Linked DNA regions of Homo sapiens. The protein of the gene in region 1 interacts with the protein of each later gene in a pairwise test. Each region holds a gene or a part of one and is shown in the gene's direction. Other genes may lie near its edges.

Region 1 (7,027 bases):
TTTAGACACACTAACTGCTTTATTCCGAATTCACCTGCACTTTTCTCCCACCAGCTTCAGAGGAGGCTCCCAGGGCAGCAAGCCTGTGGCTGGCGGTTCCTGGGAGCTGTGGCGGCCTCCAGCCTGGGGGACACTGAGGACCTGCTGGTGCCTCATCCCGCTGTGTCCATCCTGTGCTCTGACAGGGCTGGCTTTGTTCCCACAGAGCAGCCTGTACAGCGAGGAGGGCCTGGGTGTCACAGCGCTCAGCACCCTCTATGGAGGCATGCTCCTGTCCTCCATGTTCCTCCCACCGCTCCTCATCGAGAGGCTGGGCTGCAAGGGGACCATCATCCTCTCCATGTGTGGCTACGTGGCCTTCTCCGTGGGCAACTTCTTCGCCAGCTGGTACGCAGCCACCACCCCCTGCCCACCCCACCCCGGCCGTTCCCCACGCTAGGGACGTTCACTCTGCACATGAGTTGCATTTGCACCTGATTACTGTTCACTGCAGGCATTTTAAAATGAGCTCTCCTGCCCCTGCACCCCCGCCTCGCTTTGGTGACAGACGGTGCTGGGCTTCCTTCCTGTTTTCCCACCAAGGCTCCTCTGTGCCCCCCACTGCTTCTGTCTCCTCCTCCCGATCCCCGATGCTGGCCTCTCCCTGGGATCCGTCCTGGTCCTCAGCTCCCCTGGCTGGGCGAGGGTTCCAGTAACACAGGGGACTCTAACTGCAATGCAGATGGTGAGTCTCGTGGGCACCTAGGCAGATGTCACCAATGGACCGAAAGCTGCACCTCGCCCACCATTAGGAGGTGGGTATGGCCAGGGCAGGTCACAGGGATGGGAGGCCACCCTGCTCCCTGGTGAGATGGACCACAGAGACTGAGCTCTGAGGGCTTTGGCCTGCACCCCAGGCCCCGGGAACACAGCCATGGAGCATCTCTTCCAGGGACCCTGGTTGTGCCAGGACATGCTGCTGATGATGGCTGCAAGTCCTTCTTCCCGGTAGCTGCAGAGTCTTACATGGCATGCCGCCGCTGAGGCCCGAGCCGGTCACTAGGTCTTTTTAACCGGGGCTGTCCCTCGGCCTCCCTCGTGCTCCTCGCCTCCCTCGTGCTCCTCGCCTCCCTCGTGATCCTCGGCCTCCCTCGTGCTCCTCGCCTCCCTCGTGCTCCTCGCCTCCCTCGTGAACCTCGCCTCCCTCGTGATCCTCGCCTGCCTCGTGCTCCTCGCCTGCCTCGTGCTCCTCGCCTCCCTCGTGCTCCTCGCCTCCCTCGTGATCCTCGCCTGCCTCGTGCTCCTCGCCTCCCTCGTGCTCCTCGCCTCCCTCGTGCTCCTCGCCTGCCTCGTGCTCCTCGCCTCCCTCGTGATCCTCGCCTGCCTCGTGCTCCTCGCCTGCCTCGTGCTCCTCGCCTCCCTCGTGCTCCTCGCCTTCCTCGTGCTCCTCGCCTCCCTCGTGCTCCTCACCTTGTTGTTTGCAATCGCATCCGATACAAGGAGCCTCACTGGCTTCAATTTCACTTTTGCAAATCAGTCCAAGCTAGGAAATGCACTGATATTGCTCATTTTTCTGAGTGTAATGGTGAATCCATCCATCCAACCAGCAACACTCATCACCACGCTTGCAATGGGCCAGGCGGTGGTTCCTTCTCCCAGATTGACTAAAGAACTGCAGGGACATGGGTGCAATGGGCTTGCGTCTCCTGTTACAGGCTATGGGTCTGCATTTTACCCACAGGTACACTTTGATCCCCACCTCCATACTGCTGGGACTCGGGGCCGCCCCGCTGTGGTCTGCACAGTGCACATACCTCACGATCACGGGAAACACACATGCAGAGAAGGCGGGAAAGCGTGGCAAAGACATGGTGAACCAGTATTTTGGCATCTTCTTCCTCATATTCCAGTCATCCGGTGTGTGGGGCAACTTGATCTCATCGCTGGTATTTGGCCAGACTCCCAGCCAAGGTAAAAGGAAAAGGGGCAAGCAATTGTCTCCAAGTGGAGCAGGGGTTTCAGTGATGGGGGAGAGGGTTCCTGATTTCAGTTGCACACCTGCCTTGATTCTGTAACTTGAGCAGGTGAGTCAGGCCCCACAGGTGAGATTCTCAACCTGCCTGTGCTTCAGAGTTGCCTGTTACCTGCTGTCTTCTGGACAGTCGGGTGGGACTGAAGAAGATCTGCGTCTTCCACAGGTGCCTCCGCAGGGGCAGGGGAGCCCTTGGGAGAGGGCGCCATGGGAAACTGAGGGCCACGCCAGTAGAATTTGTGTTCATGGAGTCTCAACTGCACAACTGTCCTTTTTAGACTAAGGATGGGGTTGCCTGATTTCTTTTCCCTGTGACTTGATACAATGACCAGATTTTCAAATGTTTTATGACAGGCCCCTTATCCCATGACAGATGTGGACATTGGATGGGCTGATGCCCTGGCTCCTCTGTCTCTACCCGACCTTGCCCTGGTATAAATATAAAGTGCATATCTCATTTGTGCCCATGACCTTAGTGCCCACGTTGAGGCTTTAAGCACAGGGCAGAGGACATACATCTCTTTCATGCTTACAGGAAAACTTTCCCAACGGGGTAAAAACCAATCCAGCCCTCCTGACTAGTATCACAACTATTTCTATCACTTCATCAAGGTTCTCCATCTTGCTATCCCATAAAAATCCCACGCTTGGTAAACTCTGTAGCCAAAACCCCTCTCCCTTTTTCTCATGCGATGTCATGCCTGCTAAGTGCATTTGAAGAAGGGAAGCCGTGAAGGTGATGCATAGCAATTTTTACTCATTATTGCTGTTGGTGTCAGCAACAATGAAACAGAAACTGGGGTTACAGCTCAGTCTGCATATCACGGCCAGTGAAGTGGAGGAACAGGCATTTCTTTCGAAGACCTTTCTGCAGGTGAGTTAGTTCTCCAAGTCAGCACAGGACACAGAATCTGGGGCTGGAGGGATTTGGAGGGCGTCGTGTGCTTCTCCACCTTCTTGTACCTTCTCTTATCAGCTGCACATCTCACCCACCTAGAAGATTTTGTGAAGCTGTCTGTTATATAATTTGTGTTATTAAAATAATAAAAACACTGAATATTCTTTCTCCCACCACATCTTTCTCCTTTCCCCAGAGATTCTGACAGGACTTCTGACTGAGAGTCATTGCTAATTCAAATTGTATTTTTCTAAGAGATCACAGAACTAACGTTAGTTTTCAAAAACAGAAAAGTTATGAAATCACCTGCCCAAAGTCATTGAGTTGGTAACAGATGAATCTGAAAGAGAATCCAGCATTCCTGGCACCCAATCTCATGTACTTTTTTCTTTTTGACTAATTTTGAAAACTTGAAAAATTTTAATTATGTCAGAAAAGCAGTAAAACAAGTAACCAGCACTTTTCCAAGTTCATTCTTCCCTGAATCTTTGCAGAACACGAATAGGATTTTCCACCTCCCAAAGTGTCTTAAATCGAGTCTAGGGACATGTGCCTAGACTCGATCTAAATCTATTTTGAGACACTGGGTCTTTCCACGTGACCTGTAGTGATGCCTCCCCCCAGGTGTCCAATGTCCTTTCCACTGTCACTTTGATTTCTCAAGAACCTACATCTTGTCACATTTGCCGTCATCTCATGTCTCCTGTCCACTCTGACTTCATAGAGACCCTTCCAGAAGAGCAGCTCACGTCCTGTGGGGCCAGTGACTGCCTGATGGCCACCACAACCACCAACAGCACCCAGAGGCCCTCCCAGCAGCTGGTCTACACCCTCCTGGGCATCTACACTGGTACGAGCTCCATCGGCCCAGGGCAGGGTCCCTAGCAAAGCAGAGCCAAGCCTCCTTCCTGGGCTGACAAAGACTGTCTCTCCCAATGTAAAAGTAATCTCTCTTCTTCTGAAATATCCTTGCAAAATGTATTGGTCTGGATTATATGCAGGCGGTGTTCTTATGAATCAAATGCAGTACACCCGTGCTGTCTAACAGAGGATCCTGGGGTGATGAGATTGTTATACATCTCCAGAGCCCAACACAGCAGCCATTAAGCACTGTGGTTGTTTACATCTTAACTGATTAAAGTTTCAGTTCCTAAGTCTCCCAGCCACACTGCAAGTGCTCAGCAGTACGGGGGCTGGCGGCTACCATTACAGACAGCTTGGTGGCTGGCTAGGGCACTGGGATTGACTGTTTGTGTTTCAGCTGTGGCCAAGGGGCCCTGAACATCCATAATTGCTATAAGCCACTTTTTTTTTTTTTTCTGAGAAATGTGCTGAGTACCTTCTGTGGAAAGGCTAGAGGGGCGAGTGCTCCCAAGTGCTTGTTGCACCTTAGCTGGAGACGTTGCAAGCTCATGGTGAAAGGGCTGCCCAAAGGAAGTTAATTGTCATGACGAGGCTCATTCTTAGAAGTTCATTTTAATAGAGAATGTTATGTAATAGTTTCATATGTGACTTCAGTGTTATAGTCAAAGGTTTATTACAACTTTGAAGGGGATACATTTAGAGAGTTTTAAAAACCATTTTGTAAATAATTTAAATATTTTTTTTTTTGGCTGGGCATGGTGGCTCACACCTGTAATCTCAGCACTTTGGGAGGCTGAGGCGGGCAGATCACTTGAGGTCAGGAGTTCGAGACCAGCCTGGCCAACATGGTGAAACCCCATTTGCACTAAAAATACAAAAATTAGCTGAGCGAGCATGGTGGCATATGCCTGTTATCCCAGCTACTCGGGGGGCTGAGGCAGGAGAATCACTTGAACCCGGGAGGTGGAGGTTGCAGTGAGCCAAGATCGCGCTGCTGCACTCCAGCCTGGGCAACAGAGCGAGACTCCATCTCAAAAAAAAAAAAATACACACACACACACACACACATATTTATATATGCATGTACATATACATATACACGTATATATTTCTATATGTATATATATATATATATATTCTTTGTCATTCTTGGATTTGGGGATTCATAAAGGCCTTGGAATGGGTCCTTCTTAAAGATCAAAGGCCTGGCACCTGTGAGCTCTGGGGGTACCAACTCCTGCACTCTGCCGGGGTCAGAGGTGAGGAGGGTTCGTGGGCACTGCAGAGCTTTTCCTCATGCTGAGATGATGTGCGGCACCAACCTCAGGTCCCCTCAGGCCACTTCCACATCAGAGGCTCTGAGTGAGCACTTGTAAAGCTATCGCTGGAAGTCGACAAAGTGTACTGAGCACGTGCTAGGCCATGCTAGGCCTTCTTGGTCCAGACATTCAGATGACTAGAAGCTCGCCTTTAGTAAGCTGAGAGCCTAGTGAAGGAGGCAGACACACACCCAACTAACCGAGACCAGTCCGACAGTGTTCTGAGCACAGTTCCCAGCTGACTTGCAGCTGCATCTCCCTGGAGCACGGAGTTTCAGGAAAGCCTCCAAGGGCGGGTGGTCCCTAAGCCGAGTCTGGACAATGAGCAAGATTTGGCCAGGCAGGGAAGTGATGCTGAAGTCCCTGGAGGCGAGATGTCCAGGAAGAGCCCGCAGGGCTGGGGGCAAGGTGGAGGGGCAGAAATGGGGCACAAGACTAGCTGTGGCCCTTGATGTTGTGCCAAAGGGTCTGGACGAGTGCAGACTTGCCTTCTTGACAGACCCCATGCCAGCGTGACTTAGAGGTGCAGAGAGACAGCGGGCAGAGACCCACTGAGGACGGAGTGCTGAGTCCAGAGGAGGGAGCAGGTACGGGGAGGCAGAGATGGAGGGGCTGAGAGAGAGGCCAGCAGGGTCCGTGTGGGTTGGACATGGTGTGGGGAAGAGAAGACAGCCCTGGGGTTGACAGGAAGATGAGCTCAGGCCGGGAACACCTGGCTTGAGGACGCAGTGGGACTCTTGCATAGTGTCCAGTGGGCAGTCTGACGCCGTGCAGGGCTCAGGCCAGAGGCCAATGCAAGTGTGGACGTGGAGGCATCTTCCAACATGGTGACTGGAATCATGTCAGGGATGAGGCTCTTAGGGAGAAAAAGCAGAGGGAATTGTTACAGAGAAGGGAGTATAGCTGGACCCCTGGTTCAGCAACACTGAGGGCCAGGCAGACAACTGGAGCCTTGGAAGGAGACAGAAAACCAAACCAGGGTCTTGGAGGACACCAGGGTTGTAGAATCAGCTGGGGAGGGGGTTTGAGAGTGTTGAGTGTGGCAGGGCCCCTAGGAGGCTCAGGGGGGAGGCTGGACGAGGCTCTTAGCCAGTGAGAGGCTGTTGATGCCCATCAGGCGAGCAACCTGGGGAGGGTGCTCGTGTGCAAGGCCCAGACTGAGGGTTTCAGAAGTGAGTGGAAGGTGTGGACAGGGAGTCAGGAGGAGCCACGGTTTTCTCTGGTCTGCAAGTCTCTGCTGACTTGGAATTGTGGTCATGTTTTCCCAGCAGGCCCCAAGGTTCCCATCAACATGGTCCCAGGGACCAGCCAGGCCTGTGCTTCCCCAACACTTCCCCTCACCACCTCCTCTACATAACTAGGAGGCTGGGGGACTCGGGGACATTGAGCTGAGTCAAGACCATCAGGTCTCCTTCCAGCTCCACAAATTCCAGTTAGGCAGCCACCAACAAAGACTTCTCCTATCTATAAAAGAACAGAATTTTGGAGTGGGGGCTGCAGCCTTCCTCTGTGAAGGGCTGACAGCAAATATTCCTACATGTAAGTATCTTTCTGAGGATCATATGGTCCTTGTTGCAATTGTTCAACATTGTCTTTGTAATGGGAAAAAGCCATAGACAACATGTAAGCAAATGAGCATGCCTGCATGCCAATAAAACTTTATTTTCAAAAGCAGGCAGTGGGCAGGCTTTGGCCCGCAGGCCATAGTTTGCTGGCCCCTGCTCTAGAGGAACAGCACAGGCTTCTCTGTGGCTTCCAGGCCCTTCATTGCCAGCTGTCCTCCGCAGGTGGCTGTTGTCTGTGGAACCTCCCCTGCAGGGTTACCCCCAGTGTGCTCTCTGGCCACAGCCCCATCTCGGTTCACGGAATCCCGCAGCCTAAGGGAGTCCAAGTCTAGAAGTTATGTAGAGCAGAGATCACACACATGTAAATGAA
Region 2 (7,027 bases), on another chromosome or scaffold:
ACGCTATTGCACTCCAGCCTGGGTAACAAGAGTGAAACTCTGTCTCAAAATTAGCCGGGCCAGGTGGCATGCACCTGTAATCCCAGCTACTGGGGAGGCTGAGGCATAAGAATTCCTTGAACCCGGGAGAAGGAGGTTGCAGTGAGCTGAGATTACACCACTGCACTCCAGCCTGGGCGACAGAATGAGACTCTGTCTCAAGAAAAAGAAAGAAGTTCAGCCCAGCGCAGTGGCTCACACCTGTAATCCCAGCACTTTGGGAGGCTGAGGTGTATTGGGGGAAATTCAGCCAGATATCGGGCGAAATTCACCCCTGATATTTCACGTAGGTTCTTTTCTGTATTACCTAAGTGTCAGCTGGTCTGAGAAATAAAGGGACAGAGTACAAAAGGGAGAAATTTTAAAGCTGGGTGTCCGGGGGAGACATCATATGTCGGCAGGTTCCGTGATGCCCCCTGAGCCATAAAACCAGCAAGTTTTGATTAGTGATTTTCAAAAGGGGAGGGAGTGTACCAATAGGATGTGGGTCACAGAGACCACGTGCTTCACAAGGTAATAGAATATCACAAGGCAAATGGAGGCAGGGCCAGATCACAGGACCATAGGACCGGGGTGAAATTAAAATTGCTAATGAAGTTTCGGGCACGCATTGTCATTGATAACATCTTATCAAGAGACAGGGTTTGAGAGCAGACAACCAGTCTGACCAAAATTTATTAGGCGGGAATTTCCTCGTCCTAATAAGCCTGGGAGCGCTATGGGAGACTGGGGCTTATTTCATCCCTACAGCTTCGACCATAAAAGATGGCCGCCCCCCAGAAGCAGCCATTTTAGAGGCCTACCCTCAGGGACGCATTCTCTTTCTCAAGGATGTCCCTTGCTGAGAAAAAGAATTCAGCAACATTTCTCCCATTTGCTTTTGAAAGAAGAGAAATATGGCTCTGTTCCACCCGGCTCACCGGCAGTCAGAGTTTAAGATTATCTCTCTTGTTCCCTGAACATTGCTGTTATCCTGTTCTTTCAAGGTGCCCAGATTTCATATTGTTCAAACACACATGCTCTACAATTTGTGCAGTTAACGCAATCATCACAGGGTCCTGAGGCGACATACAGCCTCCTCAGCTTACGAAGATGATGGGATTAAGAGATTAAAGATAGGCATAGGAAATCACAAGGGTATTGGTTGGAGAAGTGATAAGTGTCCATGAAATCTTCACAATTTATGTTCAGAGATTGCAGTAAAGACAGGCGTAAGAAATTACAAAAGTATTAATTTGGGAAACTAATAAATGTCCATGAAATCTTCACAATCCACGTTCTTCTGCAATGGCTTCAGCTGGTCCCTCCGTTTGGGGTCCCTGACTTCCCGCAACAGAGGTGGGAGGATCACGAGGTCAGGAGATCAAGACCATCCTGGCCAACGTGGTGAAACCCTGTCTACTAAAATTACAAAAATTAGCTGGGCGTGGTGGCGCCTGCCTGTAATCCCCCCTACTCGGGAACCTGAGGCAGGAGAATCACTTGAACCCAGGAGGCAGAGGTTGCAGTGAGCCGAGATCACGCCACTGCACTCCAGCCTAGGGACAGAGCTAGACTCCATCTCAAAAAAAAAAAAAAAAAGAAGAAAGAAAGAAAGAAGTTCATGATTTGCACAGAGGTCACGGGGTCCCTAATGATGTGAAGCATGGTCTATGTGACTCCAGATGCTGGCTCTGATGAAAGAGGGCAGCAGGGCTCTGGGCAGTTTAGGGCCGAGGCTCCAGGCCCAGACCCACTAGATCATTCTGCCTGAGGGCGAAGGCTGGCTTCCTGCCTTTCCTACTGAGGGGCATCTGAGTCGCAGCCTCTATCCTCTCTCTGCCTCAACCCAAGGAGACATAGGGGAGGCCAGGGTGCCCACTCAGGGTGGGGAGGCCTGGGTTCCAGCCATACCTTTGCTCATATTTGCTGGGCAACCTTGGGCATATTGGGATTTTATCTGGGCCTCAGTTTCCTCATCTGTCAGTGGAGGAGAGTTGGAGTTGATGGAGTCCAAGGGGCCTCTTGCTCTCCCTTCGCCCTGAGATCCTGTGACCCAGGCCTGGGAGAAGGAAGTGGGCACACCAAGAGTGCTGGGCTGGGATTGATGACAGCCCACAGCCAGGGAAGATTGAAGTCAGAGTTCAGCCCTGCCCTGGCGTATTCAGAGCTGACACAGAGGCCCTATCTCTATCCTCCCTGGCTCCAAGGCAGGGTCAAAACCCAGTTCTATTTTTTGCCCTCAGGTTACATGAGAGCTAGAGGCTGAGCACAGGCATGAGCTCTGGGCATGAGTCTGCACTGGGAAACCTGACCTGTGGGCACCCCTGTGCAGGCCACAGGGCTGTGAAGGTCCTAACCTCAAGGCCCATGCTGCCCCTGCTGAGAAAGAGTCAGTGCTTCTCACACTGGGACCCAGGCAGCCCCAGCCTGCAGGAGGGGCAATGGCCGGCCAGGCCTCAGGCACTTGGGCATGGAGTGGCATGTGCCTGGCATCGGGCTGCATCTTGACTCCTGCCAGCTCCCTCCTTCCCTCCCTCCCTAGTCTTAACTCCTGACCCCTGGGAGGTTGAGTCCTTGCTCTGGGCTCCTGCGGTATCCTCTGCTCCCCCTATCATGGTTCCAAATGCCATGTATGATCACCACCTGGTTACCTGTCTGCTGCCTGCCAGACAGATTTGGGGCAATTCTATGTTCCTGGAACCTAGCCCTGGGGCCTTGCAGAGGATACATAATTTGTAAATTATAATTTTTAAATTTTATTTTATTATTTTTTTTTTTGAGACAATCTCTCTCTGTCGCCCAGGCTGGAATGCAGCAGTGCAATCTCAGCTCATTGCAACCTCTGCCTCCTGGTTTCAAGCAATTCTTGTGCCTCAGCCTCCTGAGTAGCTGGGACTACAGGCTCATGCCACCGTCCTGGCTAATTTTTAATTTTTTTTTTTTTTTTTTTTTTTTTTTAGAAACAGGCTCACTATGTTGCCCAGGCTGGTCTCAAACCCCTGGCCTCAAGTGATCTTCCCTCCGGGCCTCCCAAAGTGCTGGAATTACAGGTGTGAGCCAACATGCCGACAGATTTACTGATGGCTCTGACAGGCGAGCTGATCTCATAGACTGGTTGGGCTGCCTGATTCAGGAGGGAGTTTAGGGGGCTAGAGGCCCCACTAACAGAGATAGGAGCCCTGCAGAGATGGGGAGGAACAGACTTGAGCCAGGGCCTGAGATAGGCTTTTTTTGCTTGTTTGTTTGTTTGTTTATGAGAGGGTCTTGCTCTGTCATCCAGGCTGGAGTGCAGTGGCTCACTGCGGCCTCAATTTCCCAGGCTCGGGCAATCCTCCCACCTCAGCCTCCCGAGTAGCTAGGACTATAGGCGTGCCTCCATGCCCAGCTAATTTTTGTATTTTTTGTAGAAATGGGGTTTCATCATGTTGCCCAGGCTGGTCTCCAACTCCTAGACTCAAGTGATTTACCCACCTCGGCCTAAAGTGCTGGGATTACGGGCATGAGCCACCACACCCAGCCTGAGATAGGTTTTGAACAAAAGGTTTCTACTGCAGGAGGCTCCAGGAGAGGCACCAGGGCCAGATTCAGACGTGAGTGTACGTGGCTGATGCCAGCTCCATTCCTGAGAGCAGAGTTTGTGGGAGCAGAGGGCAAGTATCCAGAAAGAAGGCTGGGCATGGTGGCTCACGCCTGTAATCCCAGCACTTTGGGAAGCCAAGGCAGGCAGCTCACTTGAGGTCAGGAGTTCGAGACCAGCCTGGCCAGCATGGTGAATCCCCGTCTCTACTAAAAATACAAAAAAAATTAGCTGGGCATGCTGGTGCATGCCTGTCATCCCAGCTACTCGGGAGGCTGAGGTAGGAGAATCTCTTGAACCAGGGAGGCGGAGGTTGCAGTGAGCCGAGATATCACACCATTGCACTCTAGCCTGGGCAACATCTCAAAAAAAAAAAAAAAAAAGGCCAGGCACGGTGGTTCACACCTGTAATCCCAGCACTTTGGGAGGCCAAGGTGGGTGGATCATGAGGTCAGGAGATTGAGACCATCCTGGCTAACACAGTGAAACCCCGTCTCTACTAAAAAATACAAAAAAATAGCCAGGTGTGGTGGTGGGCACCTGTAGTCCCAGCTAGTCGGGAGGCTGAGGCAGGAGAATGGCGTGAACCCGGGAGGCGGAGCTTGCAGTGAGCCCAGATAGCGCTACTACACTCCAGCCTGGGCGACAGAGTGAGACTCCGTCTCAAAAAAAAAAAAAAAAAAGTATCCAGAAAGAGGAGAGCCCAGGCAGCTGTTGGCAGGGCCAGCGACTTCCCTCCTTCTTGGGCCAGTTGTAGGCCCAGGGAGCCTGCACAAGGAGAGGGGTTATGCCATCCTCCTACCCACAGAAAGGGTGGGAAGTGGGGCGCCAGCCTGCTGAGCTTGCTCTCAGCTGGACTCCCCCGCCCGTCCGCATCACAGAGCAGGCGGACTCAACCCCTCTGAGCTCTCAGGCTGATGGGGGAGATGCACTCAGATATAGAGATCATGATGGCAGAAAAGAAGTTCTAGAGTCAAAGTGGTCACACGTGTTGGGGAGCGGTTGCTTCTTCCTGGGGAGCGCTGAGAAGGCTATCTAGGGGAAGAGACATGCAATGATGATGACAATAATGTAACCATGAGAGCAAACATTTGTTGGGGCCTCCCTAGGTGCCCACACCATGCCCAGCTCTTCATACTGAAGGAGGAGGAAAGGGTGATCTGGGAATGGGAAACAGGCCGTGCCAGGGCACAGGGTGTCAGCCAGCAGGAGCAGGGTGTGGGGATCATGCCAGCTGCCGGGGTGAGCCGGCATCAAGGACATCACACAGGGCATCAGGCCCTGTGTTCAGCACCTCACATGTGAGGGGGCTGTTGCTACCCGAGCCACACGACTTAAGGAGACTGAGGCGTGGAGAGAGGGAGACAGTATCACACAGCCCGTGAAAGAGCAAAAGGGCCAAGCCAATAGCAAGCAGACAGGGTTTAGAGAAGGGTCAGCTGTTGTCTGCATGTGGCAGAAACTTGGGCATGTTCCAATAGAAGGAGAGGTGGCAATGAGGCAGGACAAACAGGCTGACATTTTGGGGTCCCCAGGTAGAAGCCAGTCACCGCCTCTGACAGCGAATGGCTGCCCTTTCCCTGGGCTGCAGGGAGGGGAGGTGGAGGATTGGGTGGGATGTACAATAGGTGTGAGGAGATGGGTGGGAAGTTTAGGACCTTCCTGCCTGGCTGCCTTGCAGAGGGTGAAATTTACCAAAGGTGAAGTTCACCTGAAAACCCAACCGCCTTCTTGTGATGGGACGTTTAATGTGCAAGCCACAGGTAGCTCATAACACTGTTAACTTTCGAGCCTGCGAGCAGGAGGCATTCTGATTATCTGTTCATTTCTAGAAACGCTTGAGCCAGAGGGACTGTTTGTTGCCTAGAGAACAAAGCTAAAACATCGGAATGAAATTGAGAGAGAAATAAAATTTCCTATTCTAAGCATAGCCTATGAGTAAGCATCTCTGTGGCTTTTTGGAAAGTGTGTGTCAGAAAATGCATAGAGGCTCACAGAGGCCTGGGAGGGGACCTGTGTCGACTACTCATCTCTCTCCACTAACTTGGCAAAGGCCCCATGCCATCATTGCCCTCATGCAAATAATGTCATTTCAGCCAGGCGCAATGGCTCACACCTGTAATCCCAGCACTTTGGGAGGCCAAGCTGAGCAGATTGCTTGAGTCTAGGAGTTTGAGACCAGCCTGGGTGAACCAGATGACGAAACCCCATCTCTACAAAAAATACAAAAATTTTCAGGGGTGATGGTGCATGCCTGTAGCCCCAGCTACTTGGGAGGCTGAGAAGGGAGGATCGCTTGAGCTCGGAAGGCAGTAAACTGACATCGTACCACTACACTCCAGCCTGGGCAAGAGAACCAGACCCTGTCTCAAATAATAATAATAATGTCATTTCGCCTGGGCAAGAGAACCAGACCCTGTCTCAAATAATAATAATAATGTCATTTCGCCTGGGCACCCCTTTGTGAATTGGCTGGTGGTGGCATGTGTACACGTAGGTACACACAGATACACAGTCACACATAGGCAAAGCAGCAAGATCCCCTCCTGCCTTACAAAGTGAAAAGGTTTCCTCTTAGTCCTGGATTCATCTTGACAAGCCACAGTATTAGCAGGAAAAAAAAAAGATGCTGATTATCAGTTATAAACAGTGAGTGAGAGCCAAGATCCCACAATGACCTTTTGTCCCCTTGTCACTCCAGTGGTCATAAGTGAATGAGGCAATGAATGGGTCACACTTTTGACCCAATTTATTATTTTCTTTTATAAACTCTTCTTTTTTAATGCAAAGGCCCCCATGTGGCTAGTAAGTGGCAGAGCTGGGACCCTCTGCTGGCCTGCCCTTTCATGGTGGCTGGAACTGCAGTGTGGGAGTGATAGGGGCTGAGGCGGGAAAGGTGGTTGGGGCCAGTTGATGCAGAGTCTTCGAAGCTGGGTGAAGAACCCTGGGCTGGGTGCACTGGCTCAACGCCTGTAATCCCAGCACTTTGGGAGGCCGAGGTGGGAGGATCACCTGAGGTCAGGAGTTCGAGACCAGCCTGGCCAACATGGCGAAACCCCGTCTCTACTAAAAATACAAAAATTAGCCAGTTGTGGTGGCGCATGCCTGTGATCCCAGCTACTTGGGAGACTGAGGCAGGAGAATCACTTGAACCTGGGAGGCAGAAGTTGCAGCAAGCCGAGATCATTCCACTGCATTCCAGCCTGGGCAACAGAGCAAGACTCTGTCTCCAAAAAAAAAAAAAAAAAAAAAAAGAACCTAGGACCTTCAGGGCCAGGGCAGCCCCTGAAGATTTATTTTTATTTTTTAGAGACAGGGTCTTGCTCTGGTCATTGAGGTGGAGTGTAGTAGCATCATCATAGCTCACTGTAGCCTTCCTCTGGGCTCAAGTGATCCTCCTGCCTCAGCCTCTCAAAGTGCTGGGATTAC

Evidence for each region.
Region 2: the proteins of UNC93A (region 1) and SLC35E4 interact in binary tests that used the Homo sapiens proteins (3 or more experiments, as listed by UniProt).

Annotation. Positions count from the first base shown.
Region 1 is NC_000006.12:167,294,312-167,301,338, forward strand, and holds part of UNC93A (protein unc-93 homolog A), read left to right. Parts: intron 1-205; coding exon 206-387; intron 388-1,720; coding exon 1,721-1,950; intron 1,951-3,633; coding exon 3,634-3,759; intron 3,760-7,027.
Region 2 is NC_000022.11:30,638,767-30,645,793, forward strand, and holds part of SLC35E4 (solute carrier family 35 member E4), read left to right. Parts: intron 1-7,027. UniProt on the Homo sapiens protein: Putative transporter.